Linked DNA regions of Homo sapiens: region 2 is linked to region 1. Evidence: fine-mapped expression QTL. A gene starts in region 1. The other region holds a variant in brackets. All regions are shown on one strand. Distances are from middle to middle.

Region 1 (5,470 bases):
CAGGGCCATGCAACGAGATGGTTTATCACAGTAATTGAATGTTTACGCTCCTATTATTCACTGTCCAGAGCAGTTGGAAAAGGAAGACCTACGAATTCTCAACCCGGGAAGGCTTCTCCTTTTCCCTGGGTTCTGAAGCCACTTAACACCCAAGGAAAGGGTGCATTTCTCTGATCCAAAAGGGGCGTGTGCCACACCTTTGGTGGGAGGCTCTAGAGCAAGACAGGTGGTTTCTCCCCTCAGCTGAGGCCCCCTAGGGAGGACTGGCTTCTCGGTCCACCTTCACTAGGCCTTCAGTCTCAACCCTGAAGCTACAGGAACAAGAAGATCCCAGATCACCTGGCCAGGCTCCCCCTGCTGGAGCAAGCCAGACATCCCCTCCCTCCCCCAGCCGCAGCTGCCAACAGGGATCCCCTGCATACGCGGGCCACCGGGGCCTCCGTGGCCAGCCTCTCTTCCCCCATCCCACCGCCCCCCGCGCGAGGCTCCACAGGCTGGCACACAGGTCCCACGTGGGATGGTGGAAACAGGAAGCAGCCACCGTAGTTGTGACCAACAAAGTTTTAAATGGGGCATATAACTTCCCCTTTCATCTTCTCACCAGCTCTCGCTGGAGGCTGGGCTGGGACGGACACCCGGCCTCCACTTTCTGTGGCAGGTACCTCCTCCATGTCGGCCCGCCTTGGGGCTGAAGCCTGAAGGCCCCAGGGCACACGAAGTTCCCCTTCCTCCCCTAGACCTTTACCCAGAGGCCTTGGGGGCAACCTGACACACATGGTCCTGCATGTGCGACTTGGGAGGCGACGTGACCAGCTCCACCAAGCCGGCCATATGCAGGGCCCGGCCGAATCCCGGGTTTCGGCGCTGCCGCCAGGCACCAGGGAACACAGCTCCCCGCGAGGCACCGCGCGGGCTGGGAGGGCTGCGGCGGCGCGGGCGTGCGGGGGCGCGCGGGAGGATGACAGGTCTGAGGTGCGCCCGCCCGCGCGAAGCGCTCCAGCCTAGGCCTCTGCTGACTGCATTTGCCCCAGTTCCCCAACGCCCCTGCACCTCTGTCCCCCAAACTCCTGGCGTGGACGCCGCGTCCAGGCCCACTTTCCCGTGCACGCTGGCAGGGGAAGGGGCTCCCGCGCCAAGTTCCCTCAGCTGGCTAGCCCCTCGCCGCGCCTTCCGGGCCTGGGCTCCGTCACGTCAGCCGGTCCCCACGGACACCACGTTTCTCTCCAGCGGAGGAGGAGCAGCCGGATTCCCGAGCCGCCGCGGGCCGCCGGGTGGGGAGGGCTTTCCTGGCGGGGCCGCGCCCGGGTGGGCGGGGGCCGCGCGCAAGCTGCGTAGCTGCACAAACACCGCGGGGCTGCGCTGCACACGCAGCTGCGGGCCGAGGGCGCGGACCGCGGGGGAGGGGGCGGCGGGCTGCAGGCGGCCCCCGCACGGCCACACGCGCCCGCTCCACCGCCGCCCAGGCCGCAGAAGTTCGAGCGCAGCGGCCCCCGCGGCCCCCTCTCCGGGCCGCGCCTGCAGAGCTGCAACCCGCCGTGCGAGCAGCCACAGCTCGCGCGCCGCCTGGGGTCCCCTCGCCGGCCCCGCCGCGTGCAGGCCTCGGCCGCCGGCCAGGCAGCCCCACTTACCCAGCTCTTGCCCGGGCTCCGGGCTCCGGGCTCGGCTGTCCCCCTTCCGCCGCGGGTCGCCGCCTTCGGTCGCCTCCGGGACTCCAGCCGCCTGCACGCACTCCCGATTTTAAAAACAAACAGGCGCCGTCGCCTCCCCGCGGCGCTCGCGGGGCTTCCGCCAGCCCGCGCCTCCCGAGGCTGAGAAGTTTGCTGGCAGGGCCCGGGCGGGACGCGCGGGCTGTCACCCCCCGCTTGCGATGCAGGAGCCTCGGCGCGCCCCGCACCCGTGCCGTCCGCCTCGCGAGCGCTCTGCCTCCCTCCGTGTCACCCCCAGTCCTGCGATGCAGTGTCAGGATTGCACGGCTCTGACTCATCGGTTGAGCTCACAGCTTGAAAAAAAAAAAAAGAGAGAGGGCGAGAGGCAACAGCGGAGGAGGAGGACTCTGGCGTGCTACAAAGGATTGCACAACTCGAGGCTGGGAGCGCGGAGCGCCCAGCGGCCGGCCGGCGCGCGCGGCACCGCGGCGAGCAGGAACCAGCTCTACCACTTCATCAGCACAACTGTCTCGGGGCGGCCTCAGCCAGCAGGCCCGGCGCCGCCCACTTCCTGCGACCAAATAAGGCCGGGGAAGGCGTCCTTAAACCTCAGGCGGCGGCCGGGGCTGGGGATTTCCAGCAGACCTCACCTCCACTCACGAGTCGGTCGCCGTCCCCATCCCCCGCCCAGGCTGGCGCCCCCGATGGCTTTGCTGGCGGGCCACGCTGCTAGTTCCTTTCACACCAAGGTCAGGAGGAGACGGTGACGAAATGTTTGGAAACCCATTGAGCCTGCCAGGAAAGTGTGTGTGTGATGCTGGGGAAGGCACAAGTCGCTTTCTTCCACAAAGAAACTCTCTCTGGTTTTGGATACGGTAAATCATGCACAATCCTCTCCATGGCATTTTATTAACAGACTCTCCGAGTTTCACTTTCTGGCTCAAAAGCGTCCTGGTGCGTGTAAAGGTTATTGAGAAACTGGCCTCAGTCCCTAGAAAGGACCCACCATCTCCATCGCTTAGGTGAGGAAAATCTCCTGGATTTAAATCTAGCAACTCAGGCCAGAGTTGAGCGGCTTTTCACTCCATACTCACATTTTCCCCTGTCTTCCCTAAATATCCCCCTGATCAATTCTCAGGTCCAGGCCTTGATGCCTCCTTGCCTGACTGGTGGGAAGATGGAAAACATTTTTGCAGCTCAAGAGGTTGGTTCTGGCCCCCACATTCAATGGGGCTCTAGGGCCAGGGGAAAGTTCAGGGGAGTGTGTCCTATTCTTCCTTCCAAGTTTTTTGGTGGTGGTGCAGTGGTGGTGGTGGCGGCGGCGGTGGTGGCGGTGGCTGTTTTTCAAGGAGATGGGTCACAAGGAGATTTTCCTTTGAAAGAAAAACCACCGAAGAATACCATGTGTCCTGGCAGCCACTTTTCAAAACACTGTGGCCAGACCTGAGAACCAGGTGCATCCCTCACTTTCTCAGGGAGAAGAGGAGGGAGGGGCAGCAGAATATGATTCTCACACACTCACTGGGCCTACAGGGCCAGGGTGGGGTGTGGAGGACACAGGCAAAACTTGGATCTTCTGCCCAGAAATCCTGCCAAACCTGCACTTGCTTCTAAGGGGGCATGGCTTTCCTGTCCTCTTCCACCTCTTTGCTGGCTGGAGCACCTGCGTACATGTACACCTGGAAGTCACACCTCCCCAAGAGGAGAAGGGCTTATTTGCACCATGTTATGATAGATATGTCAAAATAAGGAACACTTAAAACAATCTTATCTACAAAATACAGGTAATTATGCCACAGGACTGGACCAGAGGACCTCTTGAGATCCCTTCCAGTTCAAGATCCATGATTCTGTGATTACAGTAAGTGAATAGAGGAGCTAGGGAAACCACCTTCTACAAAAAAAAGCCCGGGCTCCCCGATTTAGCATCTGTGATGACAGTATTGTTCCTGGCAGCTCTCAGAGCACTTCTCCATACAGTCTCCTGAAGAGCCCTGCATGTGAGTTTTATCTCTCTCAATCTGTGGATGTACTGAGGTTCAGAGAGGTTAAGTGAATTGCACCAGGTCACAGGGCAAGCCAAGCATCTGTGACCTCTCTGCTCCTCCCCCAGAGGAAGGCAGTGAGCAATTGAGGAACTGCAGTGCTCAGGCCTGCAGACCCCCAAGCAGAGGCCAGACTCTCAGGGCTCCTGGCAAAGGATCAGGGTAGAGCCTTTTTACTTTTTTCATTTGCCTGATTTCTTCCCTCCCACTGACAACACATCCAAGTGAGGGAAGCAAAAGCAAAGCCATTTGGTCTCCAGTGCCCACTGCTGCCAAGTTCCTCTGCAGACCTGTGGCCATCCTCACCTCCCCTGAGAGCCCAGCCCCTGCAGTTGGCCTTAGGCCAGCCCAGAGTGAGCCCCTAAGAGCTTGTGCAGACCAGCCCAGGGATGTTCCCAACCAACCAGAAAACCTGACTGGGAAGCACATTGCTAGAAGAGCCTGCCATCATGGAGCCAGGGCCCAGCCTTCAGGGAACAGGTGAAAGCCACTCCAAAGGAGTGGCCCAGGAAGCAGCATACATAGTGGAGGCAGGTGGCAGGGGAAACAGAGAAGTCAGTGGCCCTGAAGGAGCCTTGCTCACCTTGGAGCGGCACCGCCCTTCACTACAGCTAAACTTCCAAATTCAGGCCACCTAAGAAAGGAGAGAGAAGAAAAGGGGCACACATGTGTGCAGGGGAGGAGGGCTCAAGACTATACCAAATAGCCCCCCCTTGGCAGGAGAAGTCTACCTCAAAAAGGCGGGCAGATGAGGCTATGTAAAGAAAGCTGCAGCGCTTCCGGGAAAGCCCTGGAGGTCAGTTTTGCTGCAGATATGACGGTGCAGAATCACTGACGTGTGAAGTGAAAGTTTTGGTTTTAGAAGCTCCAGCCCCTGCTACAAGTCTCTGGGGCAACCAAGAAGGTTGACCTTTCAGGGAAATGGGGAGGTGTTCCAGAGACCTTATCCACAGAGTTGGATTTTCTCCACCCTCAACCCTCTTTACAAACTGCACGAAAAAGGAGTACAGAGCTCCAGTTACCAGGGAGTGTGACAAGAGAGAAACACTCCAGGAAATAAAGCACCCTAGACAGAATCCTAAACTCTGATTCCCAATAAAGGTAGAATATGGCAAATTTGAGAGGCTTCCTAGGGCCACATCAGCTCTCTGGACTCCACTCAGAGCGGTCTGTCACTGCCCTGTGTTTCATCAGCAGTATCTAGACCATTAAAATCTTCCAAGGATGAGGCCAGGCACAGTGGTTCACACCTGTAACCCCAGAACTTTAGAAGGCTGAGGCAGGAGGAGTGCTTGAGCGCAGGAGTTTAGAGACCAGCCTAGGCAACGTGGCAAAACCCAGTCTCTACAAAAAAATACAAAAATTAGCCAGGTGTGGTGGCACATGCCTGTGGTCCCAGCTACTCAAGAGGCTGAGGTAGGAGGATTGCTTGAGCCCATGAGGTCAAGGCTGCAGTGAGTTGTGTTCACGCCACTGCACTCCATCCTGGGTGACAGGGTGAGACGTTGTCTCAAGAAAAAAGAAAATCTTCCAAGGGTGAATTTTATGGTGTGTGAAGTATATCTCAATAAAGCTGTTACGAAGTTGGGGGAAAGCTTCCAAGGAAGCCAGGTTCTCACCTCCCAGCCACCTTCCTCCAATAAGTCTGCAGCCATCATCACTATTTAAAAGAGAAGTGTCTTTCTCCCCAGGCTCCATACCTGCATTGCTGTCCTTTTCCCACTGTTCCTCCCCCAATGAGGCCAGCACACGTGGTGTGTTTAAGTAAACAACCAACCT
Region 2 (5,255 bases), 42 kb before region 1:
TGGTGGAGACCTCAGAAATGGTCTGCAACACAGGCACTAGGTCAGTTTCCCGCCCTTAGCTGAATGCAGATGGATGCTGGGAGATGGATATGGTGAGATGGTGTGGGGAGGATGTTAGAAAGCTGGAGGTGTTTATCACTTCTCAAGGAGCTCTGAATATAGGGGGAAAAAAACAACAAAAAGACAAGCCCAGGGAGAAAGCACCATTAAGGATATACCTATGCCAGCTTCTATAGCTGCACCTGCTTTATTGGCAGGTCACTTGCCACAATTGCATCTGCCCTCTAAACTTTTTAATTTTCACACTGTATCCTAGACATGAATGCATAAAATACAGTGTCTGGCGGGATAATGCAGAGAGGTACCATCTTGATTTTCCCCAGTTACATTCACCTGGTCTGGTCTCTGTAAGCTTAGAAGAGTAGAATCACTTTATTTTTTAAAGACTTCCGGCCAGGCACGGTGGTTCACGCCTGTAATGCCAGCACTTTGGGAGGCCGAGGCGGGTGGACCACCTGAGGTCAGGAGTTCAAGACCAGCCTGGCCGACATGGCGAAACCCTGTCTCTACTAAAAAAAAAAATACAAAAAGATTAGCTGGGTGTGGTGGTGTGTGCCTATAATCCCAGCTACTCAGGAGGCTGAGGCAGGAGAATTCTTTTAACCCAAGAGGCGGAGGTTGCAGTGAGCCAAGATCACACCACTGCACTCCAGCCTGGGCGACAGAATGAGACTCTGTCTCAAAAAAAAAAAAAAAAAAAAAAAAAAATTTTTTTTCCAAGTACAAGATGTTACCACTGACAAAAGGGTCTCATATGAATGATGGAGGTTTCTGTTACCGTATGCCCATAAAGGGGCCTGAAACCAAATATGATTTGAATAGAAAAGACCTTGGGAAACATAAGTAGCACTTTGGGGCTAAGCTGCGAAGGCACTCGTATTGTACAAGTAATTTCGAAGAGAGCCTAAATTTGCTACCCCCCTGCTTCTACAGGGTATACCAGATTTTTGCTGTCTTGGGACACTGAGCTCATGGAAGCCTGTGGAGGAAACTAACCGGTAAGCTGGGGATCTAGGTAGTCATCCAAGAGTCTGGAGGGAGAAGAAATTTGTTACTTCCACAGCTGGGGTCCTGTAGAACCATACTAATGTACAAATGGATGCTGAAAAATACCTGCATAGTTTCAAAACAAAACTCCCTCTCCACTCCCAGTTACTGACATGATGCTTCTTGGCTATCTCATAAGGAGTAGCAGTATGAATACTTTCTGGCTCCTTCCTAATACGTTGACCTGTCATACGCGCATTCACTTAGAATTTCTTTTGCACAACTAAAGTTGAATAAGATCAGAAAAATAGCTGAGCCCCGCTATGGGACTGGAAGTGAAGGGGCCTCCAGAACCTCCTGGCCCTTTCACTTCACCCATGCCAAATATGGCTTCTTCAAGCCAGAATCCAGGCCCCATAAACCAAACTAGAATTCTGGCCTCTTGCCAACTCTTCCCTCAGGCAAAGCACAGCCAGAGAAGGGGCAGCAAGAACTGCCTTAATCTCCCTTGCTCTGTGTGGGTCTGGTGACACCCTCCACCTTCCCACGCTCTTTCAGTGTTGCTATCATTCCTATCAGCAAGAGCTTCCAGAGCAACCAGGTGAGGGACCTTAGGGCCTTGGGAATTTAGGGGGTGGGGATAGGGGATGTCAAGATGCCTCGTTTTGGGATAAATGCACTCGGGCCTCTGAAAAGCAGGAGGCCCCTGGTCCCTGAGAGGATGTTAAAAATTAAATACTAAGAATAAATAAATAGCTCCCAAATGACACGAGTCAAGGAATGAAGGCTCCTGTCCAATCGAGTTAGGAGACCTCTCCCTCCCAGGGAAGGATCCAGAAATCTCCAAAGTGCAGGCCTGGGGGCTGGGTTGTGGATATCGACACTGGGTAGGGTGCGGTGGGGTTAGGTGTAGCTGCTGAGGTCAGAGCAGAGGCAAGGAGGCTGGCCCCAGGAGGGGCAGGCTGAGCCTCTCCGGGACCTGCTCAAGGCGAAGCGCCCTTGGCAGCCTCCAGGACCCAAAGGTATTCAGCCAAAAAGGTGGGAAGCAGGAAGAGCCAGGCTTGTCAAAAGCTCTCTCGGGCCTAACCCTGCAGCTTCCAGCCTCCGTACAGCTCCCTTCCCTGCAGCAGGATGAGTGCTTTGGACAAGAACGCTAGCCCCTCCCCCAACGCTGAGAAAACTTTCTAGCCCTAGCAAGGCCGCCAGCAAGCAGCAAAGGGAGAGT[A/G]CCTGCCGCGGCCTCCCTCCCAAGGAGGAGGTGGCCACTCAGGACACGGTCACGGGAGCAGCTCAGACAGGCCTAGAGACTGCAGGGACAGCACAGGTGTCAGGCTGCGCCCCTTCTCAGAGAAGCCCGCAGACTCCCTCCAAGAGTTTCTTTTTCTGGGGCTTGGGGCAGGGCCGTTGCAGCCTTCGAGGTCCTCTGGGGAGGAGAAATGCTGCTCCAAAGTGGGTGAGCTTGTGCTTGGCCGGCCACGGTGGCTTCCTGGAGGCCGAGGGGAGGAGGGGGAAGCAAATAAAGGGAAAAGACTGCGGGGCAGCAGAGCAGCAGAAATCGGAGTGTGAGAGGCGGTGGAGTCCCTCCCGAGGGGACCGGGACTCTCCCGGTCCAGGAAAGCACGAGGACAGCTTCCGACAGACCAAATGCAAAGAGAGCTGGATCCTGGAGCCCTTAACGCTGCTCCCAGGGCCTTCATAAATAAAAGAGCCGTTTATGTCATTGTCTCATTTGTTTCGCAGGGAAAAGTCCCTGCAATCCTCTCCTCACTCCCTCTTGAGATGCCAGGGTGTCTGCGGGCGCTGGCGGCGGTGCGGGAAGGGCCGAGGCCCAGGACTGGGCCAGCCTGGCTCCCGCGCTCAGCCCTTGTCGCCCGCACCGCTCTCCTCCCGCAGGGCCTGCTGGTGGGCGGCGGCGGCGGCAGCAGCGGCCTCTTTCTCCTTCAGCCTCAGCGCTGCAGCCTTCTTCTCCTGCTCTGCGTGGCTCTTCATATGCGCACTGCGGCTCTTCACCTTGTAAAACACCCTGCAGCCGGGTGGGGGTTGCTCAGAACCGGCCTAGCCCACCCGGGGGCCCCCAGCGCGGGTGCGCGAGGAGCCCCAGCCTTCACCTTCACCCCCACGCTGCACAGCCGCGGCCGGCCAGCTCGCGTCATTTTCCGAAAGCTGCCCCATGACGTCACAGCCCTAGAAACCCGCTGAGCCAACCAGAAACGAGGCGGACACCGCCTGTACCTCTTCCCCCTCCCCTCCACCCCACCCCCGCCCCCTCCGCGCACCAGCCCGCGGGGGTCCCAGCGGGGACAGCGCTGCCCACCTTACCTGCCACATTTTTTACAGGGGAAAGTGTTCTCCTGATTCTGGGTCTTACTGAATGTCTCTGTTTTTTTCTTCTTCTCTGAAAAAGGTAGTGCCCTTCGTGACTTCCCTGTCCCTTCCCTTGGCTTCTCCGAGGCCTGGCCACCGGCAGACCCAGGGGCGTTGGACTCGTGGCTCCGGAGGATGAGGATGTCACTGGCCTGAAGAAAATCAAACAAGGAGAGTTGAGTGATCTGAGCAAGCGCAGATCTGGAATTCTAAAATCGCAGGGAACCGGGGGCCTGAAAAGTCATATATATTCCTGCCAAACAGTCACCTAGCATGCACTTGGGTCCTTCCAGGGATATGACGACCATTGCCTCCTCCAACTCTGCATCTCTGGTCAGCTCTATCGTTTACAAAGTTGCTGCTAGAGTAATTCTGTGGGGCAGCCCGAGCTGCTAGAGGCCTTGATGCGCCTGACAGGGGATCTTGGTCTCTGGGTTAATGAAGCACCTACCTGTTGATGTTTTCTGTCATTTAGTCCGCTCATGCCCTGTTCTATAAATGAGATTCAGGCCCCTGTGATGGGCCAGATGCTAGGGACAAAGAGGTTGACACAGGCATCCCTGCCCTCAGAGCTGAGGATCTGGTGGAAGGGACAGATGCGCAGGTAGCTACTTCAGGACAGCGCACTGCAGGGACACCAAACAGGGCAAGGGCAGGGGTCAGAGTGCAGAGCAGAGGGAGCAGAGGTGACCTCGGCTGGGGAAGCCCCGGGTGGCCATCAGAAGTGGCACCCTCATGGGAAAGTTCACAAAAGTCAACAGAACTCTGTAGAGCGCTACACAGAGCACAGCTCTTGGTGCAGGTGGTCGAGGCTCAGAAGTGGGCACACAGCCGTGTGTTTACAGTTTATGGGAGCTCTGTAAGCATGAGTGTACTACACACATTCCTTTTTTTTTTTTTTTTTTTTGAGATGGAGTCTTGCTATGTCACCCAGGCTGGAGTGCAGTGGCATGATCTTGGCTCACTGCAACCTCCGCCTCCTCCACCTCCTGGGTTCAAGTGATTCTCCTGCCTCAGCCTCTGGAGTAGCTGGGATTACAGGCGTGCACCACCATGCCCAGCTAGTTTTTGTATTTTTAATAGAGATGAGGTTTCACCTTGTTGGCCAGGCTGGTCTCGACTCCTGACCTCAGGTGATCCACTCACCTTGGCCTCCCAAAGTGCTGGGATTACAGGTGTGAGCCACTGCGCCCGGCCTACTACATACATTTCTAAAAAAAAAGACTCTAAAAAAGCAGCAGCTCCCCAATAAACCCCTTCCCCTCCTTACCCCTTTCTGGGAGAACTCTCCCTGGCAAGGAGCAACTATGGCCAGTAGTCTTGTTTCTTGGCCTGTGATATGGTGGACAGAGCACTGCACTAGGAGTCCAAGGACCTGGGGCAAGTCACTTAGCATCTCTGAACTGCTTTCCCCCATCTGCAGAGTAGAGGTTAACTCTGCAGTGTGAGGAACTAATGAGATAATGGAAATGAAAGCACTTTGCAGAGATCATGCCTGAGGGCCTATGATTGTCATTCCCATGGTCTCAGCTCAGTCTCATTCTTGTCAGGGACTCTGGCTCTCTTAGGGGAGCCCTGTCTGCAAACCACCAATGCTCCCTCAGTGACCCACATACCTACTGGGTTTTCACAAAACCTTTTTCCCTCTGAATCTCAGATACAGAAGCAGTAGAGTATAAAAATTAATCGCAGACTCTGGATTCAGGCTGCCTACTAGCTGTGTTATCTTGGGCCACAATTTCCCCATCTATAAAATGGGAATAACAGTAATACCTAACCACATAGGGTAGTGAGGATTAAATGAGTTAACAGCACAAAGTACTTCACACATTTCCTGCTATTATGAT

Direction of the effects. Positions count from the first base shown, and alleles are read on the strand shown. Sizes are in standard deviations (SD) of each study's normalised expression.
With allele G in place of A in region 2, the expression in cerebellum of the gene that starts at base 2,169 in region 1 is lower (large effect, 0.91 SD a copy in GTEx).

What was found. PIP is the estimated chance that this variant, and not a neighbour inherited with it, causes the effect.
Region 2: its variant is fine-mapped to the expression of MIDEAS in cerebellum (GTEx, PIP above 0.99). The same link has a PIP of 0.9 or more in cerebellar hemisphere.

Annotation. Positions count from the first base shown.
Region 1 is chr14:73,758,135-73,763,604 of GRCh38, forward strand. MIDEAS (mitotic deacetylase associated SANT domain protein) reads right to left here and starts at 2,169. Exons shown (of 13, transcript NM_001367710.1): 1 at 1,629-2,169. MIR4505 (microRNA 4505) reads left to right here and starts at 613; the gene lies at 613-685. RefSeq lists enhancers at 137-186, 2,247-2,576, 3,492-4,014, 4,015-4,536, 4,138-4,437 and silencers at 837-946, 1,307-1,456, 1,587-1,826.
Region 2 is chr14:73,715,942-73,721,196 of GRCh38, forward strand. It overlaps MIDEAS (mitotic deacetylase associated SANT domain protein), which reads right to left. Exons shown (of 13, transcript NM_001367710.1): 12 at 3,364-3,560; 13 at 1-3,067. The coding sequence ends at 2,902. Among named protein-coding and RNA genes, the nearest start is that of PNMA1, 4.2 kb to the left of the region's middle. RefSeq lists an enhancer at 2,874-3,484. The variant A/G (reference allele first, on the strand shown) is at 2,273.